Linked DNA regions of Homo sapiens. The protein of the gene in region 4 purifies or fractionates together with the protein of the main gene of each other region. This does not show direct contact. Each region holds a gene or a part of one and is shown on either strand. Other genes may lie near its edges.

Region 1 (3,500 bases), on a different chromosome or scaffold from region 4:
AAAGCCCCTTCCGTTCTTCCGTATGTTAAACTTAGAATCACTCTGTTCCCTGCTCTGCGTTTCTATTTTTTGTTTTTCCTCCATTTACTAGTAGCTTAACACTTTCTAACAGTGTTCTTATTATTGATACGTATCTATCTCTTCCATAAGCTTATAAGGTCACGGATAATACTTCTCATTGTAGTACGTAAATGACGTGGGCTAGATATGAGTTGAATAAACAGTTATACCTGTAAATTCTTACAGAGTGAAAATAAATTGTTATACTTTACAATTTGTTTCTCTCTTTAGACCATTTCCAGGACTTGTGATTAATAACCGTGAGTATTTTGTGAAGTGTTTTGTTTTTGTTTTTTCCTGGGGTCTGACGTGTGTGCGTGTGAGTGTGTATACATGCTTAACGTATATCACGTTACTTCACCTATGTCAGTAACCAGGCCAAATACTTGTTTTAGCCCTCAGTAAAAACACCAGGCACTTCCTAGTTGTAAAATTATTCAAGCTTCTTAACTTCCTATCCTCGATGCACTTAATCATAAAATGGTAATAATAGCACCGATTTTGGGGGAGTCGTTCCAGTAGATGGAAAGCATCTGGAACAGGTGTCAGCAAGCTCCTGCCGACGTGTATGCATAAAGTTTTATTGAAACCACCATCGTGTCCATTTGTTTATGGCAGAACTGAGAGATGGCAGCAGCAAGTGTGTGCCTGCAAAACCTAAAATATTTACTAATTGGCTCTGCAAGAAAAGAGTTTGCATCCCCCTAACCTAGAACAGTGTCTAGCCTCTAGTATGTGTTTAGCCTACAGTATGTGCTCAGCGAATACAATCTATATTTATTACTGCTTTTATGACTGTTATAATTACTGTGCTTGGATTTCGTTACAAAGTAAGTCACAATGTGCCTGCTTCTGTTAGTATTTCAGCACAGTGCCTGGCACACATGGGGCTCTCAAATATTGCTGAGCGAGTGAACAAATGTCCTTTCAATTCCTTAACGTTGATGTCATTTTCAATAGTATTTTGAGCCAAACTTAATTTTGCGAGTGTGTTTTGTTTTCTTAACTTTATTATTAAAAATGTATAAAAGTGAGGCCAGGCGTGGTGGCTCACGCCTGTAATCCCAGCAGTTTGGGAGGCTGAGGCAGGCGGATCAGTTGAGGTTGGGAGTTGGAGACCAGCCCGTCCAACATGGTGAAAGCCTGTCTCTACTAAAAATACAAAAATCAGCTGGGTGTGGTGGCACGTGCCTGTAATCCCAGCTACTCAGGAGGCTGAGGCAGGAGAGTTGCTTGAATCCTAGAGGTGGAGGTTGCAGTGAGCTGAGATCGTGCCATTGCACTCCAGCCTGGGCAACAAGAGCAAAACTCTGTCCCAATAAATAAATAAATAAAATGTTCTCTTTTGTTCCTGTTCTTGTGCGGTAGTGTGGTATAGAGTTTTATGGTAATTACTGTGAATTAGTGATTCTGAGGGACATATCAGAACTCTGAGGTTTGTTTCCTTCTCATCTTGAGGGAAACAGCAAATGTATGTTAAAATGCTTTTCCAAGGGAACAACACATCCTTACATTATTTAAACCAATCTGCTTCATTTTCAGAGCTGGTTGATCAGAGTGAGTCAGAAGGCCCCGTGATACAAGGTGAGCGAGGCAGGGGAGGGCCCGGAGCTACTCCTGCCTGCACAGTGGCACAATGGCGTGCCTGCGTGTGGCTTTGGCTCTCAGTCACCTGCCCTGAGGGGACTCAGTTACACAGCACACACATGCTTCTCTGTGGTTTTCACTCCTGGGTTTGACAGCTGATCAAAACATAAATTCAAGCTGTGGGTCCTGATTGAGAACTGGGGGCTGCAGACCATTTGCACCCCCTATCCCAGCTCAGGCCTAACATCAGGAACCCCAGGATTAATGGGTAGGATGAAATGGCAGAGCAAGAGGGCCGTCACTTTAACCTGACTCTGCCATCCATTTCTAATGTCTGCCATAAGTCAGTGAGCAAAATGTTCTTCAGTAGAAATGTACACATTGTGCTCTTAAAAAATTCCTTAAAAAACAAGTGGAATGGCCTGGTGCTGTGTGAGTCATTGAAAGTAATGAGACTGGGCGCGGTGGCTCACGCCTGTTATCCCAGCACTTTGGAAGGCTGAGAAGGGTAGATCACTTGAGATCAGGAGTTCGAGACCAGCCTGGCCAACATGGTGCAACCCCGTCTCTACTAAGAATACAAAAACTAGCCAGACGTGGTGGCGTGTGCCGGCTACTCAGGAGGCTGAGGCAGGAGAACCGCTTGAGCCTGGGAGGCGGAGGTCGCAGTGAGCCAAGATCGTGCCACTGCACTCCAGCCTGGGCAACAGAAAGGAGATTCTGTCTCAAAAAAACAAACATACGAAGAAAAACAAAAAAAGTAATGAAAAGCTTTTATTAAAGGGAGTAAACAGAAGGATAAGGGAGAAAGCATAACTAAGGAGCTTGTTTTCATGGTAGAGCTATGTTAAGACTCTGCTCTTTCAAACTTCAGTTGCATATGTGAACTTAGGACCACATTTGAAAAACAGAAATTTGAAAGTACACTTGGATAATCGTGTGCTCCATCTCAAGACCGTGAGCATTGTTTCATCATGCACCTGTGTTTGTACAGAGTCTAGAGGGCTTTTCTCCTCTTCCTCCTCCTGGGTTCTTTACATAGTATAAAGCAGCTGTTGAACAATGTGGAAATCAGTCTCTGTGTTTCTCTTTAGAATCAGCTGAACCAAGCCAGTTGGAAGTTCCAGCCACAGAAGGTAAAAGGGTGGGGTGGTCCTGCAAGTCCTTAAGACTTCTTCTTTCTTCTTCTTCTTTTTTTTTTTTTTAAAGACAGAGACTTGCTCTGTCACCCAGGGTGGAGTGAGGTTGCGCGATCTCTGCAACCTCCGCCTCCCGGGCTCAAGCAGTTCTCCTGCCTCAGCCTCCCGAGTAGCTGGGATTACAGGCCTGCACCACCATGCTTGGCTAATTTTTGTATTTTTAGTAGAAACGGGGTTTCACCATGTTGGCCAGGCTAGTCTCAGACTTCTGACCTCAAGTGATCCGCCAGCCTTGGCCTCCAAAGTGCTCGGATTACAGGCGCGAGCCACCTTGCCCAGCCAAGACTTTTTTATCAGGACAAAGGATTGTGCATTTAAACTATTTCACTAGAACTGGGTGGTGGTTTTGCTCTCTTTCTTCTGGGTGAATTGGATTTGCAGGTTATGCTGTTGAGTGATGACGCATAGCTGCTTTTGCTCCATTTCCCCCAGATGACTTGGTAAATTCTCCGTGAATGACTCTGCTACATAACCTAGATAACCTAACGTGTGTCCTTTAAATGCATGTAAGCCAGAAGATGTATGTTACTTTGAAAACATAAGTAACAAAATTTTGAATGTATTGCTAAAGAGATGTCTCTCTGAAGCTCTTTTGATGTTTGGTGTCTTGTCCTTCTTATTAAACCATATCTTAGTAAATAGTTTGGTACGAAT
Region 2 (3,500 bases), on a different chromosome or scaffold from region 4:
TTGGCTCACTGCAAGCTCTGCCTCCCAGGTTCACGCCATTCTTCTGCCTCAGCCTCCTAAATAGCTGAGACTACAGGCACCCGCCACCACGCCCGGCTAATTTTTTGTATTTTTAGTAGAGACAGGGTTTCGCTATGTTAGCCAGGATGGTCTCAATCTCCTGACCTCATTATCCGCCCACCTCAGCCTCCCAAAGTGCTGGGATTACAGGCGCCATCCACCATGCCTGGCCTAGCTTTCTTACATTGAATTTTTGCCAGTAAATATGTCCTCCTCCTCTCTAAATCTATCATCTGAATTATCCTTCAAGACCCATATCAAATTCTGTCCTCTTCATAAATACCTGCCGTGATTGAGCTAGCCTGAAAAGACCTCACCCTCCTCTGGACATTTTTGGCAATTATTGTGTATGCAATCCAGATGGCAATTAATAATTGGCTGCCTTGTGTCATCTGTCCTATTGTCCTAGAATATCATTTGTATCTCTTATTGTTATATAACTTTTTACTTGTTTGTCTTGTTTCACAACTCATTTTTAATCTTGAGCACAGGGAATATATATATATATATTTATTTATTTATTTTGAAACAGGTTCTGGCTCTGTCACCCAGGCTGGAGTGCAGTGGTGCAGTCTTGGTTCACTGCAACCTCCGCCTTATGGGCTCAAGCCATCCTCCATCCTCCCACCTCAGCCTCCTGGCTAGCTGGGACTATAGGCACGTGCCACCAGGCCCAGCTTTTTTTTTTCGAGATGTATTGCCCAGGCTAGAGTGCAGTGGTGTGATCTTGGCTCACTGCAACCTCCACCTCCTGGGTTCAAGCTATTCTCCTGCCTTAGCCTCCTGAGTAGCTGTGATTACAGGCATGCGCCACCACCCCTGGCTAATTTTTTTATTTTTAGTAGAGACAGGGTTTCACCATGTCGGTCAGGCTGGTCTTGAACTCCTGACCTCATGATCCGCCTGCCTCGGCCTCCCAAAGTGCTGAGATTACAGGCGTGAGCCACTGCGCCCGGCCTATGCCCGGCTAATTTTTGTAATTTTTGTAGAGATGGGGTTTTGTCATGTTGTCTGGGATGGTCTCAAACTCCTGAGGTCAAGCAGTGTGCCTGCCTTAGCCTCCCAAAGTGCTGGGATTACAGGCATGAGCCACCGTGCCCAGCAGGAAACGTATCTTAAGCCTGTCCCCTACAATGCCTTGCCCGTAGTAGATCTATACTTTGCTGTGACCCAGTGGACCTCTTGTCGTAGAGGCTGCTCAAAGGCTTGATTGGCTTTGTAGAGTTATATCATATCCAGGCTCTTAGGTCCTGCTAATTCCCTTGCGCCCCTTTTGCCTTGTTCTCTCTTCTAGGCACCTCATTGTGAACATGCTTTCTGCAACGCCTGCATCACCCAGTGGTTCTCTCAGCAACAGACATGTCCAGTGGACCGTAGTGTTGTGACGGTCGCCCATCTGCGCCCAGTACCTCGGATCATGCGGAACATGTTGTCAAAGCTGCAGATTGCCTGTGACAACGCTGTGTTCGGCTGTAGTGCCGTTGTCCGGCTTGACAACCTCATGTCTCACCTCAGCGACTGTGAGCACAACCCGAAGCGGCCTGTGACCTGTGAACAGGGCTGTGGGTGAGATTTGTTCCCTTCTGCCCCACATGGATAAGGGCCATCTCATTTATGCCCCTGTCTCTGGCTGCCCTCCTCACTAGCTGAGGAGGTCTCTTTGGCATGTTGGCAAGGAGTATTCTTAGCCTCCTTGGCTTCCTGCTCTAAGATCTTACTTTCTTGCTGCTTTTCCAACTATAATCATTTTGCTCTTGCTTTAACAAAAGAAGGGGCACAGCAATTTAGTAAATTTGTGTAATAACATTAAAGCTTGATTGACTCTATTCTTCCCTTTCAGTCCAATACTACTTTCCGTTTGTCAGGTTGACTGCTATAATTGCCAGCCTTCTCATATTTCCTCTTGCCCTATTTTTTTATTTCTGTGGGTTATGAAATATTCGACTAAATGTTGATAGCTGAAGGGCATGTTAGCTCACACCTGTAATCCTAGCACTTTGGGAGGCCGAAGTGGGCAAGTCACTTCAGGCCAGGAGTTCAAGACCAACCTGGCCAACATGGCAAAACCTTGTCTCTACTAAAAATACAAAAATTAGCCAGGTGTGGGGCCGGGCGCGGTGGCTCACGCCTGTAATCCCAGCACTTTGGGAGGCCAAGGCGGGTGGATCACGAGGTCAGGAGATTGAGACCATCCTGGCTAACACATTGAAACCCCGTCTCTACTAAAAATACAAAAAACTAGCCAGGCGTGGTGGCAGGCACCTGTAGTCCCAGCTACTTGGGAGGCTGAGGCAGGAGAACGGCATGAACCTGGGACGGGGAGCTTGCAGTGAGCAGAGATTGAGCCACTGCACTCCAGCCTGGGCAACAGAGCGAGACTCCGTCTCAAAAAAAAAAAAAAAAAATTAGCCAAGTGTGGTGGTGCTCGCCTGTAATCCCAGCTACTCAGGAGGCTGAGGCATGAGAATCACTTAAAACCAGAGGTAGAGGTTGTAGTGAGCTGAGATCGCGCCATTGCACTCCAGCCTGGGTGACAGAATGAGACTCTGTTCCCCCTAACTAAAAAATAAAAAGAATGTTGATAGCTGGGGCTGTGAATATAGGGCTTCTCTGAAGGAATAAGTGCACAGGCAGAATCTGTAGGAGGAAAAGGAGAGCTGTGCAGTAGATAAAAACAGTGTGTCAAAATAAATAAATAGGCCCCGTGCGGTGGCTCACGCCTGTAATCCCAGCACTTTGGGAGGACGAGGCGGGCGGATCACCTGAGGTCAGGAGTTCAAGACCAGCGTGGCCAACATGGTGAAACCCCATCTCTACTAAAAATATAAAAATTAGCCAGGTGTGGTGGTGGGCACCTGTAATCCCAGCTACTCGGGAGGCTGAGGCACAAGAATTACTTGAACCCATGAGGCGGAGGTTGCAGTGAGCTGAGACCGTGCCATTGCACTCCAGCCTGGGTGACAAGAGTGAAACTTGGTCTCGAAAAAAAAAAAAAAAGGCCAGGCGCGGTGGCTCACGCCTGTAATCCCAACACTTTGGAAGGCCGAGGGGGGCAGATCACGTGAGGCCAGGAGTTTGAGACCAGCCTGGCTAACATGGAGAAACCCCATTTCTACTAAAAATACAAAAAGTTAGCCGGCCATGGTGGCGCGCACCTGTAATCCCAGCTACTCGGGAGGCTGAGGCAGGAGAATCGCTTGAACCTGGGAGGCAGAGGTTGCGCTGAGCTGAGATCATGCCATCGCACTCCAGTTTGGGCAACAAGAGCGAAACTCCGTGTCAAAAAAAATAATAAAAATACAAAATAAAATAAATTTAAAAAATAGATAAAACACTGTGTCTTGATTGGGGAAAGAAATTTAAGGAAAATAGACAGCAAAGGGGCAAGTAGGAAGCTTGGACGAAGAAAGTGAAGGGAATAAACAAGAGGGAGGCCTGAA
Region 3 (3,500 bases), on a different chromosome or scaffold from region 4:
ATCACATATAATTTATTAGCTTTTCGTTATTGAAGATATTATTGCCCGGGCATGGTGGCTCACACCTGTATGGGCAACATGGCAAAACCCCATCTCTACAAAAAATACAAAAAACTAGCTGGAGATGGTGGTATGCAAGTGTAGTCCCAGCTGCTCAGGAGACTGAGGCAGGAGGATTGATTGAGCCCAGGTGGTCAAGGCTGCAGTGAGCCATGATTGTGCCACTGTACCCCAGCCTGGGCGACAGAATGAGACCCTGTCTCAAAAAAAAAAAAAAAAAAGATACTGAAGTATTCCGTTCAGTAACATGAAACTTTTAAGATAATTCTCACATTTTAATTTTTACTTCATTAAATGGAATCTAATTTGCCATACATAGATTTATTGAAATATGGCACTGTTAACATTTTCTTTTTCTTACCTGACTGTGTAAAATTAGTTTTTGCTTGTTTTCTCATATCATTCTTAGATAGCTTGTACATAATAAGGCTTGTATTATCGAAAGAAGCAATACTGTTCTTATTAATTATGGACACTTTTTTTTAGTACTTATTACAATTCTAAAACAATTGCCATCAGTATTCAGCAGTAATATAAATAACAAAAGCAATAATATAAAGAAAAACATACAGATTGAGTATCCTAAATGCTTGGGACTGGAAGTGTTTTGGATTTCGGATTTTGGAATACTTGCAGATAATGTATGGGTTGAGCATCCCTTATCTGGAAATCTGAAATCTGAAGTGCTCTTGTGAGCATTTCCTTAGAGTGTCTTGTTGCTAAGAAAGTTTTGGATTTTGGAGCATTTTGGATTTCGGATTTTCAGATTAGGGATGCTCAACCTGTAATAGGAATATGACAGGAGACCTTAATATTTTAGAAAAATCTGCGTTACTGTGTGAAGTCATCTTTTAAATATTTTTCCACCAAAAAATAAATGCTCATTATAGTAAACTTAGAAAATGGTAGTCTTTAGAAAAATTACGAATGGCAGAAAGGTAAAGCTACTTAATGAGACAAATCAGTCTGTAGTACCCAAAGATAGCCTCTATCAACTAGCAGATTTCTTATTTTGTGCACTGTTTTTTATCATAGTTGTGATCATACTGTTCATACAGTTTTGACTAGTAAACTGAGAAAATAATAGACTTCAGAAAAATAAGAAACTTAAGAAAAAAATAGAAACTTTAGAAATATTAGAAACTTCAGGAAAGTAAAGATACTTCATGAAAGAGGCTGGATGTGGAGGCTCATGCCTGTAATCCCAGCACTTTGGGAGGCCAAGGCAGGCAGATCACTTGAGGTCAGGAGTTTGAGACCAGCCTGGCCAACATGGCGAAACCCTGTCTCTACTGAAAATATAAAAATTAGCCGGGCTTGGTGGCATCCCAGCTACTCGGGAGGCTGAGGCAGGAGAATTGCTTGAACTCAGGAAGCGGAGGTTGCTTGAACTCAGAATTGTGCCACTGCAATCCAGCCTGGGTGACAGAATAGGACTCTGTCTCAAAAAAAAAAAAAAAAAAAAAAAAACTTTATGAAAGAAATGAGCCAGTCACAGTACAGCTGAAAAACTGTTGTGAGAGGACCTCATGTATTTTAACTACAAAATTATTTTAATAGACATAGATAACTCTTCTTCAGTGAGCTTCAGTAGTTTGTGTCTTTCAAGGAATTTGCCATTTCCTCTAAGTTTTGAAATTTATTGGTGCTAATTTTCATTTTGATTTCACCTTTGACCCAAGAATAATTTAAGTATGTTATTTTGTGTCCAAATATTTTGGGAGTTTTCCAGACGACTTTCTGATACTGATTTCTAATTTAATTTCATGTGGTCAGAGAACATACTTTCTATAATTTGAATCCTTTTAAATTTATGGAGCCTTAATTTTGGCCCAGGATATGGTCTATCTGGTAAATGTTGTGTGTGCACTTGAAGAGTGTGTATTCTGTTATTGTTAGGTGTAATTAAGTCAGATTGGCTGATAGTGGTGTTCGCGTCACTTATTTCCTTATGATTTTCTGTACACTCGCTCTATCAGTTATTAAGAGAGAAAGAGGGTGACCTCTCTTGACGATAATTGTAGATTTGACTTTCTCCTTGAAGTCCTATCAGTTTTTTCTTCAAGTATCTTGAAGCTCTTTTATTTGGTACATTAATATTTAGGATTGTTATGCATTTAATGAATTGACCCTTTATCATTATGATGGTATCCCTGGATATAGGCTTTGCCCAAAGTTTGATGTTAATATAGCTACTCCTGTTTCGTTTGATTGTTATTAGAACGTATATCTTTTCATCCTTTTATTTTTAATCTATTTGTGTTTATATTTAACATGGATTTCTTGTCTCTCTTGCTTTTTAAAAATCCATTCTGAAAATCTCTGCTTGTTAGTGCAGGTGTTTAGACCGTTTACATTTAATGCAGTTATTGCTATGGTTATAATTAAATCTACCATCTATTCTTCTCTCCTTCCTGCCTTATTTTGGATAATTTTTTATGATCCCATTTTATCTTATTTGTAGGCTTATTAGCTATGCCTTTTTTGTTTTGTTTTTGTAGTGATTGTTTTATGGTTCATAATATATATCTTATTGTCAACTATTCTCACTTTGTACAATACTGTGTTTACTAAAATTTGTGCATACAAGAATCTTTTCACTTTGCATGATTTTTTGGTAACAGTTACTTTGCCAGTGAAGGTCACAGTTTTGATGTGCCCAAGTTTCAGTTAACACAGTACCATGCAAAGTAAGGACTACTTATCATTTCGCGTATGGTATAAAAATCTTATACTTCCTTTTCCATTTCCCCTCTACTAGCTTGGCCTTTTGTGCTACTGTTGTGATTCATGTTATTTCTACTTTTGTTGTTTCCACAATATGTTATGATTTTTACTTTAAACAGTATGATTTAAAAATAAGAAAAATATTTATCCACATTTACCAATTTTTGTAAATGTTCATTCCTTTGTGTATAGATTCAGATTTTTATCTGGTATCATTTTCCTTTTGCCTAAAGAACTTCTTTTAATATTTTTTGTAGTGTCAATCTGCTGATGATAAATCAATTCTTTCCGGCTCTGTGAACTAAGGGGATTGTTCTGCCTGCTCACTTTGGGCAATTCTTTTTCCAGCCTTAGGTAGTTTCCTCACATGCCTGCACTGATCAGTACTCAACTGAAGACTTGAGGAGGTTGCTTCTATAAATCTCTGAAGCTCTCTGTTTATACAGCTTTCTCCTCATTGTTACTCTGCTCTGCAAATTTTAGCTGTCTCGATCCCCCAAAACTCCCAACTCCTTTTCTACTCAGGCTGACTCCCAGGCTCCACCTAAGTTTCCTGTCTCTGTACTGTCACTTGGAAGCTTTCCAGGCAATAAGATGGGGCAGTCAGAGGGTATATGTTGTTCTCCTCCCTTTCCCCAGGGATCACTGCTCCATGCTGCCTGTAGTCCAGTGTCTGTAACCATTGTTTTCTGTATTTATTTTTTCTTTTTAGT
Region 4 (3,500 bases):
GATAAGCTGACATTGATGGAGATACTGTAGTCCCTGCTTACCCATGGAGGAAGCTATGTTTCAACACCTGCAGTAGGTGCCTGAAATCATGGATAATAACAAACCCTATATATTCCAAGTTTTTTCCTGTGCATACGTATCTGTGATAAAGTTTAATTTATAAGTTAGGCACAATAAGAGATAATAAAAACTCATAATAAAATAGAACAATTATAACAATATACTGTAATAAGAGTTATGTGAATGTGGTCTCTCTCTCTCTCTCTCAAAATATCTTGTGGTACTGTAGTCATCTATTTTCATACCATGTTGACCATGGGTAACTGAAACCCTGAAGAGTGAAACGGTAGATAAGAGGGAAACTACTGTCTGTCAGAGACACAAGAGCCGATGGAAAGAACATCCAATGTCCAAAGACGGAACTCTGAACAACAGAATATTGGATTATAATTCAAAATTTGAAGTAATATTCATGAGTTGATACTGATATAAATAAATGATTAAAGACAAATCTCCCATGCAGAGCAATTCCAAATAATTTATGTAGATGTTCCCCCTCAAAGCGGTGTATCTTAACTCCCTGATTCTTTTTTTTTGAGACAGAGTCTCGCTCTGTCCCCCAGGCTGAAGTGCCGAGGCATGAGCTCTGCTCACTGCAAGCTCCGCCTCCCAGGTTCACACCATTCTCCTGCCTCTGCCTCCCGAGTAGCTGGGACTACAGGCGCCCGCCACCATGCCTGACTAATTTTATGTATTTTTAGTAGAGACAGTGTTTCACCGTGTTAGCCAGGATGGTTTCGGTCTCCTGACCTCGTGATCCACCCGCCTCAGCCTCCCAAAGTGCTGGGTTTACAGGCGTGAGCCATCGCGCCTGGCCCTAACTCCCTGATTCTTAAGTGTGGGCAGCACATAGTGAATTCCTGCCAAAGACTACAATATGGAAAAGGGGGAACCAGTAACTTTACAGTGGAGAAACCTGACAAACACTATGTCAGCTAGATGATCAAGGCCAACATCAACAATGATGATAGCATGATAGTGTGATGTGATGAATTGGCGTTTTACCTCTGTGGTCTTCCCCTAAAAACCCATAAAGCCAGTCGACTCATGAGGAAAATATCAGCAAATCCCTATTGAGAGACGTTCTGCAGAATACCTGATCAGCACTTCTCCCAACTGTCAAGGTCATAAAAATGAGTAAAGTCTGAGAAACTGTCATAGTCAAGAGATGCCTTAAGGATTGAAGGGTAGAAAAAATAATCTGTCCCTCAAACCTTGTAAGTTCATAATTGGGACAGATACCTGTAACAAAAGACATGAACAAGCAAGTTTATTAATGCATGCAGTGCACATCGCAAGGGAGAAAAATAAGCAGTGGCTCAACATACTGTCTTCAACAAAGAACTATACATTTAGAAAAGTGTTAGGACAAAGGAAAGCAGTTCCAGGCTTCCAAAGGCAGGAGAATGTGGGAAGGTGAGTTTATGGGGAAACTCCTGGGGTAAAGTCTACTCGCAGATTTCTCTGCCACCATCTCTGAGGTGATATGGGTTGTAAAGGAGAATGGGTATCTTGTTTTTAGGTGGGAAATGGGGAGAAGATAGACCTCTTGTCTTTGTAATTCTGTGTCCTGCTTTTAGGCAGACAGAGGGAAGGCAGATAGTTTCCTTCATCCTAATTATCTTTAGCTCGAAGGTCTTTCATATTTTGGGGAGATAGGCTGGTTTCCTTCAGTTCTCCCCTTTGAAACTTTACTTTCAGAAAGTCTCACATATTATGTGCTAGGCTGGTAGCTTTGGAGAGGTATGGTTGTAGATAAGTGATTGGCAAAGGGGAAGAAAACCAGATTGGAACCAGCAGAAAAGAACAGATTTAAGTATATTGTCTCATATCTTATTGAGTCAGTCTCTTAGTCCTGAGACTAGGTTAGTTTAGGTAAACAGTCATGTTTTATTTCAAGAGGTGGTGTTATGGGTGATCTCTTTAATGTTAGGTTTCTATATGTATAAGCATACAAATACTTAATAAGAGACATTTCTATGAAAAAAAAGGAAAAGCAAGGTTAATGTTTAGAGCAGTCTATAAATTAGTTTCTGAGTCTGGAGAGCAGCCAGTTGAGAGGATTTATAAATCTTAGGCTCAAAGTGTCTTCAGCTGGAGTGGGGCAGGCAATTGCAATCTGACAGATTTTCCTTGTTTGTAGTTTAAATATCATAAAGGTTGTCGATACAAAAGCTGTTGTGGTGATTTCTCTTATGTTTGTATCAAGTTGTCCAGCTTTAGCTTGCATAGCTTCAGAAAAAGCCCAATTTTAATTTCAGTGATTCCAGGTCAAAGGGTGGGAGAAAAATTGGAAATGTTAGTTTGGAGACTCACAGCCAGGTATCAGAAAAAACTAAAAGAATTTAGGATCCATTCCAGATTGCAGGTAGTTAATAAAATCTCAAAAACAATGAACAGGGCTAGAATCTAGTAATGGGTGAACTATAGTTTCTGAACTATTATTTTTCTGAAAATATTTTTCCTCTCTCACACTAATTTCTACCAAAAAGAATCAGTAAGACCAGTTTATTTGTAAAATAAGTTTTTGTCTATTATACTTGGCCTAATTATTTACATAAATGCAGCAAAAATAGTGATTGACTATGTAAGCCCTTTTAAAATCTGCTTTGCTGGAACTCTTCATAAGGAATCTCGGATTAGGCTTACAAAAATGCCTCCTTAGGCTAAGAAGCCAAGCTTAGGACTCAACATCAGATTGTGCCTATAGTAGTCTTAGATAGATAGCTCTCTTCCCTAGATTCCTGATGTTCCTGGGCCTGTCAGGAAGGTGACATTCTTTACCCTATAAGGCAACCATTTGAACCATGTATTCAAGGTACGAGGCCAGTATTTCCAAGGTGCCTTTATTGGCCCCATTAAACTGAGGTTCCTCTAGGGACCTCAGTTCCCAAAAACTGGTCATATCAGAAAATACGACATTCTCATCAAACTTTGGCAATATAACCAGTATTTTCAATTGTATCCTATTAAAAGAAGAACGGATTCTTCCTGAACTTATGCAAATGCCTATATTATCCTAAAAATAAGAATACTCATGAATAGTTTCCAAATTTTGGAGGGATCAAGTAAGGAAGAAAAGTAAATGTTTCAATTCTATTTGCAAAAGTATACTTTACCAAATTGTCTTAAGCCATAGATAGCGCAAAAGAAGAAAATGTTTTCCTAAATCTGGAAAATAAAAGAATCAGTAGTGTTTCTAATAAAGTCCTAAAAATCACAGTCCCTCATCATGTTAGTCCCATGTAATTAATTCTTAATTTTGCTCGATGTTAGCAATTTTAGGAGTTCAGTTTCTCCTTTAGATTTCTGGAGTTCATACCTAGTCCACTGGTATTTCCTTAAAGTTATCAGAGACCTGTACAGGTCAGAGTTCTTTTTGTTCTTCCCATATACCTCCTTGAAGACCCAAAACTTTAGGATTATAATTGCTTGCAAAA

What was found.
Region 1: the proteins of SHTN1 (region 4) and GTF2I fractionate together in Homo sapiens (co-fractionation; one large-scale study listed by BioGRID). This does not show direct contact.
Region 2: the proteins of SHTN1 (region 4) and RNF41 purify together in Homo sapiens (affinity purification with mass spectrometry; 2 studies listed by BioGRID and IntAct, with this or other methods). This does not show direct contact.
Region 3: the proteins of SHTN1 (region 4) and TSNAX fractionate together in Homo sapiens (co-fractionation; one large-scale study listed by BioGRID). This does not show direct contact.

The regions. Positions count from the first base shown.
Region 1 is NC_000007.14:74,755,218-74,758,717, forward strand, and holds part of GTF2I (general transcription factor II-I), read left to right. Parts: intron 1-291; coding exon 292-320; intron 321-1,602; coding exon 1,603-1,644; intron 1,645-2,741; coding exon 2,742-2,783; intron 2,784-3,500. UniProt on the Homo sapiens protein: Interacts with the basal transcription machinery by coordinating the formation of a multiprotein complex at the C-FOS promoter, and linking specific signal responsive activator complexes.
Region 2 is NC_000012.12:56,208,423-56,211,922, reverse strand, and holds part of RNF41 (E3 ubiquitin-protein ligase NRDP1), read left to right. Parts: intron 1-1,354; coding exon 1,355-1,626; intron 1,627-3,500. UniProt on the Homo sapiens protein: Acts as E3 ubiquitin-protein ligase and regulates the degradation of target proteins. Polyubiquitinates MYD88. Negatively regulates MYD88-dependent production of pro-inflammatory cytokines.
Region 3 is NC_000001.11:231,538,669-231,542,168, forward strand, and holds part of TSNAX (translin-associated protein X), read left to right. Parts: intron 1-3,500.
Region 4 is NC_000010.11:116,995,188-116,998,687, reverse strand, and holds part of SHTN1 (shootin-1), read left to right. Parts: intron 1-3,500. UniProt on the Homo sapiens protein: Involved in the generation of internal asymmetric signals required for neuronal polarization and neurite outgrowth.